Regions from separate parts of the Homo sapiens genome. Here region 1 is linked to region 2. The links come from fine-mapping of genetic effects on gene expression. A gene starts in region 2. The other region holds a variant in brackets. All regions are shown on one strand. Distances are between the middles of the regions. Region 1 overlaps LRP2BP (LRP2 binding protein). Region 2 holds the start of UFSP2 (UFM1 specific peptidase 2).

The links. PIP is the estimated chance that this variant, and not a neighbour inherited with it, causes the effect.
Region 1: its variant is fine-mapped to the expression of UFSP2 in whole blood (TOPMed, PIP above 0.99).

Annotation. Positions count from the first base shown.
Region 1 is chr4:185,386,496-185,389,407 of GRCh38, reverse strand. The region is part of intron 1 of LRP2BP (LRP2 binding protein); the gene reads left to right. Among named protein-coding and RNA genes, the nearest start is that of LRP2BP, 8.0 kb to the left of the region's middle. The variant G/A (reference allele first, on the strand shown) is at 1,265.
Region 2 is chr4:185,424,771-185,427,682 of GRCh38, reverse strand. UFSP2 (UFM1 specific peptidase 2) reads left to right here and starts at 1,719. Exons shown (of 12, transcript NM_018359.5): 1 at 1,719-1,817. The coding sequence starts at 1,815. CFAP96 (cilia and flagella associated protein 96) reads right to left here and starts at 1,429. Exons shown (of 8, transcript NM_001114357.3): 1 at 1,287-1,429. RefSeq lists enhancers at 1,416-1,775, 1,846-1,955.

The DNA.
Region 1 (2,912 bases), 38 kb after region 2:
AAACCCCGTCTCTATTAAAAAATACAAAAAAATTAGCCGGGTGTGGTGGTGTGCGCCTGCAATCCCAGCTACTTGGGAGGCTGAGGTGGGAGAATCACGTGAACCTGGGAGGTGGAGGTTGCAGTGAACCAAGATTGCGCCATTGCACTCCAGCCTGGGCAACAGTGTGAGACTCCGTTCTCAAAATAAATAAATAAAATAAAAATAAAAATAAATAAAAATTAAAAAAGGCCAGGTGTAGTGGCTCACATCTGTAATCTCAGCACTTTGGGAGGCCAAGGTGGGGTGGATCACAAGGTCAGGAGATCCAGACCATCCTGGCCAACATGGTGAAACCCTGTCTCTACTAAAAATACAAAAATTAGCTGGGTGTGGTGGCAGGCACTTGTAATCCCAGCTACTTGGGAGGCTGATTCAAGCAGGAGAATTGCTTGAATCCAGGAGGCGGAGGTTGCAGTGAGCCGAGATCGCACCACTGTACTCCAGCCTGGCGACAGAGCAAGACTCTGTCTCAAAAAAAATAATAATTATTATTATTTTATTAGTAAGATTAGCATTTTATACTTTTTCTCCTCTTAGGAACAAAGATTAATTTGAGTAGGATGTTAACACATTTTGAGAAATTTGAGTTATTGTAAGGAAATGTTTGTTGTGCAACCTATTTTCTTCATTTAAACAATATAAAGACAGTAGATGAATACATAGCATACCTTCAGAAACAGCATGTACATATATAATTGAAATATTATTTTTCTGTATAATTTATCATTTGAAACATTTTCTTTCAACTGCTGTGAGAACACTGTCAGGTAGAAGAAGAAAAAGCTTAAGGTTTATTCTTACCGAACCTGTGTTTACTAGAAGTCCTAGATAGATAGATAGGTAGGTAGATAGATAGCCTAGGTAGGCCTGATAGGTAGGCAGGCTAGGTAGGTTAGGCAGGTTAGGTAGGTAGGTAGGCAGATAGGTAGATAGATAGTAAAAGGAAAAGGAAATCTGGGAGCCCAAGATCTTGAGTTAGTAGGTAGGCAGAAATAAGACCCCGGGACATGGCTATATCAAAGGTTTAATTAATATTGGGAATAAGGATGAGATGTTGCTTGTACAGCAGACTTGATGGACTTGTCCCTCAGGAAACCAGCCTAACACGTTCTCATCAGATCAGAAGACCACTGCGCTGCTCTCACCTCAGACTTCATCTCCTACCATGTGGGATGTGAGAAGCCACCTCCCTAATTTCTGAGTCCGAATCTCTGCCTTACAC[G/A]CCGTGGAACTCCTCCATCATCTGGGTTTCTAGCTGTGCCACAGGCCTGAAAATATTAGCTTAGGTTTAAATTCAGTGAACTTAAGGGGCAGTCTACACACCACGGGGGCATCCCCTAGGGCCGGCCTGTCCTCGGCCTACTGCGTCGCTTTTCCTGTCGAGGGCTCGTCACACAGCCTTTCCACTTCCACGGGACAGTGGGGAAAAGGAGTTAGAGAGGGAGGAATCATATCCAGAGGCCTTCATTCCACCCCTGCCTCAGAACCCAAGTTGGGAGAGAGCTTTCAAGGCACGGAGACGTGGGAGAAGGCCCGGGGCTGGGGGCTGGCTTCTCGAGCTCTGGTGTGAAGACGCTGCCCACCTCTGCAAGAACCCGTTATCCAGCGGGGTGGGGACCTTGTGGGGAATATGGAGCTGCTGTAGGCAAGGACAGATAGCCTTATGGCTGTCCATCTGTGGCCAATGGCAGTATGTTTGTAACCTCACCACAATATTATTACAGAAAATTTGAGAAATAGAGAAGAGAAACATGCAGGTCCACAGTCTCTTACTTGCAATTCAAAAAGACATGAGGGTCTGAAACACAGTATGTTTATAATTCTTAAGGCAGCAAGATCATCTTAGCTGCACACGCCTGAGACTGTATTTAGTGTTTATTCCATTTTGTGTGAACAGTGTTATATTTTACTGCAGAAACACAACTATGGCAAAAGGGTGCAATTCTAGACCATGCCCAGGCGGTTCTGCAGTAGGGTGTACATGTGTTATATGTTATTTGTACATTGTGTGGCATTTCCAAAATCCAAACACGTCTTAATTCTAAAACATTTCTGTTCCCAAGGTTTCGGATACGGCCTTATATACCTGCACATAATCCACAGTTCACACGGTGGTTTTTTGTTGGTTTGTTTGAGACTGAGTCTCGCTCTGTCACCCAGGCTGCAGTGCGGGGGCGCAATCTCGGCTCACTGCAGTCTCTGCCCCTCGTCTCATGCCTCAGGCTCCCGAGTAGCTGGGATGACAGGCACCCACCACTAGCCCAGCTAATTTTTGTATTTTTAGTAGACACGGGGTTTCACCATGTTGGCCAGGCTGGTCTCGAACTCCTAACCTCAGGTGATCTGCCCACCTTGGCCTCCCAAAGTGCTGGGATTACAGGCATGAGCCACTGCACCCTGCCAACACAATGGTTTTGATGTGTTTACACATAGGGTCTTTTCTCCCCTTGCTTCTTTACTTTTATATAATAGTAAACATCATGTACGTACATGTCTCCACGGCATCCACTTGCCTCTGTCCTCAGCTCAGTGGCCTTCGTAGTGCTGGTGCCTCAGCTTGTCACCACTAGCTAGTCCTTTCAGTAAGTCCAAAGCAACTACATTTCTACTGACTCCTCCGTTTACAAGAGTCCCAGGCACTGCTGGAGGGTGTAGTCTCTTAAGGTCCAGGGGTCACGTTGGGGTGTACCTGTCTCCTATAGCCAAAAGTTTGGGCCAGGACTAGTGAGGATGCAGCTTGTGCAAAGACTAAAACACCATCAGGCAGCTTTTCCAAAGCACAGAAATGGCTGGAATCCACCTGCCCCATGCCCTTAAGAGCACTGAGGTAGGCTGGAGCCCAGCCTTTTCTCTTGTCCTCTCTGCCCACC
Region 2 (2,912 bases):
GTTCAAGGAATTCTCCTGCCGCAGCCTCCCAGGTAGCTGGGACTACGGGCACCTGCCACCACGCCCGGCTGATTTTTGTATTTTTAGTAGAAACGGGGTTTCACCATGTTGGTCAGGCTGGTCTCAAACTCCTGACCTCAAGTGATTCACCTGCCTCGGCCTCCTAAAGTGCTGGGATTTCAGGCGTGAGCCACCGCGCCCGGCCTTTTACCTTAAATTTAAAGCAAGCTGTTTGAGTGCCTCTCTGCAAGCCTGCCTGAAACTGGCTCACCTGAGCATGAATCATTGCTAATACGTAACACCAAAGGGGCAAGTGAAGATTCATTTTAAACTGAAACATAACTAAATACAACGCCCTTCCCCACATCCTACCTCTTCCATTAATCAGAGATGCTTTAAAACCAAACTTCAGTCAAGATTTAGTACTTTCATTTACCTTATATTTCAAAGCTCCACGGCACAAGGGCAGGAGCTGAGACAGGTTCCTCCCTCTCACGGTATCCCCGCATCTGCGCAGCTCCCGGCACACAAGCGAGCCAGGGAGGAGGGAGGGAAGAAATTCTTGCCTAGAACTTTCCCATCACTTAACTTTTTTCTTATTAATTTTTTTTTTTTTTTGAGACGGAGTCTCTCTCTGTTGCCCAGGCTAGGAGTGCAGTGGAGCTGTCTTGGCTCTCTGCAGCCTCCGCCTCCCGGGTTCAAGCGATTCTCCTGTCTCAGCCTCCCGAGTAGCTGGGACTACAAGCACCCGCCACCATGCCCGGCTATTTTTTTTTTTTTTTTTTTTTTTTTTTTTTTTTTTTGGTATTTTTAGTAGAGACAGGGGTTTCACCATTTTGCCCAGGCTGGCCTCGAACTCGTGAGCGCAGGTGATGCGTCTGCCTTGGCCTCCCAAAGTGCTGGGATTACAGGCGTCAGCCACCGCGCCCGGCCCGCCACTACTTAACTCTTATTGAGCAACATTTACAAAATTATTCATTCACTTATTTAACAGATATTCTGCAATCCCCTTCGGGGCAAGCTTGCTGGTAGAAACTAGAAACAGATTTAAGAAGGCATAGATGCTGCCCGCAAGGAGCTTACAATCTATTAGACAAGAAAATAGAGCATAGCCGAATTATGGCACGTTCCCTTGCAAAAGGTACGGATGGAGCGTCAGGAGAGGTGAAGAAGGGGCAGAAAACTGGAGGAGGTGATGAGGAGTCTGTTTCCCAGAGAGGAAACGGAGGCTGGGAGGTGGCAGGTATCTAAGGGGCAACACCTGGCGTCCGCGAGGACCAAGTCACCTTTCTTGAGGACACCCACTCCGACAGCCGAGATCAGGTTGCCCCAGCTCGTCCAGGTTGCCCCAGCTTGTCCACGTTAACTGCGCTGCGGGAGCGGCGAGGGTTCCCAAGCGCGCGACACGCCTGGGCTGCGCAGCGCCTCTGCACGTTCCACCACAGCTGGCGTTTATTGTGTGATGTGTTGCCCCGGGTACGGGAGAATCCATTCCAAGCACGCTGTGGGAGGATACGAGGAGATTCGAATCCGCATCGAAGAACACACAGAAGGATGTGTGAGCTTCTGTAGGACAGAAAAGACTTAACTAATAGAATTTACCAAACATAAGTCTTCGGCTACCCGCCCCGCCTCGCCGTCCGCGAGGGACTGCGGTGTGGTACGCTCCGTGACGTCATGCCGCCGAGCATGTCGGGAGTTGTAGTTGGTCCGCCCGGGCCCCGCCCCTGGGCCGTGCGGTGACACCACTTCAGGGCCGGCCCCCGGAACTTTTGGGCAGGCGTCAGCGCCCGTGTCACCGCCACGTCGCGGACATGGTGAGTATCTCTGCTCGTCACCGACCCCTGTGTTTTTCCCCGGACTTTGGCAGCCGCCACGAGCGGGCTTCACAGCGCCTGAAAGGAGCTGGTCCTGCCGGGGTCCAAGATGGCAGCTGCGAGCTGCGTGGGCAGGGCGGCTCTCCAGTTCGCCTGTCTCCGCGCTGGGCCGGGGGGAAAGTGCCCTACACAAGTGTGCACCCCGCCTCGGCCACCTTGGACACGCACCCCCTGCTACTTCTCTGTGTGAAAGTATTTTGAGAGACTTCGGCGTTTTTGAAGCCTTGCAAGAAGGGCTTAACCTGGGACAGGCGCAACTTTCTTCGGATATTATATTCCCCTAGTTCCCGTGGTATTTCCCTCCCCTGGTTTCTCTCCTGTCTCATTGCTCAGCAAGGTTCTCCAATCCCTATCCTAAATGGTGGTGCTCTTCAGGGACGCTTTACACCCTATGCGTTCTCCTAAAATTTTATCTCTAAGTTAGACCTTTCTTCTGAGCTCCAGACCCACAAATCTGCTAACCGTGCCTCCACTTGGATAGCTCATATGTATTTCAAGCTCAGCAAGTTCCAAACTGAGCATTTCCACTTCCCCACAGCCCACACCTGCTCTTCCTCCAGGAACCCCCAACTCTGTAGATGGCACCACCATACATCCTGTTGTGCCTGCCCAAAACCTGGAAATCATCCTTGACATCTCCCTCTTCTCAACTCCCCGACATGCAGTCAATAATCAAGTCCTATAGATGCTACTTCTAAATGTCTGTCTGTTGTCACTGTCGCCACTCTTACCATCCTTGGCCTTGAGATCTATCCATCTGGGGTAGTCACCTAAGTGGTCTTTTAAGCAGATCTTCACTCATCGATGGCCCTGCCTGGAATGGGCTATTGCACCTTCACTCACCCTTCAGATCTCAGCCTCAGTATTATTTCTTCAGAGAGTATCTCAGCTAATTCGGAAGTCTAGGAAGACTAGTGCTTTTATGAATGATGTCTTGTGGAATCTTCATAACAACCCTGGGAAGTTGTGTATTTTTCCAGTTTTACAGAAGAGAAACAGACTTAAGTGATAAGTTAAATTGTGTAAAATTGTACA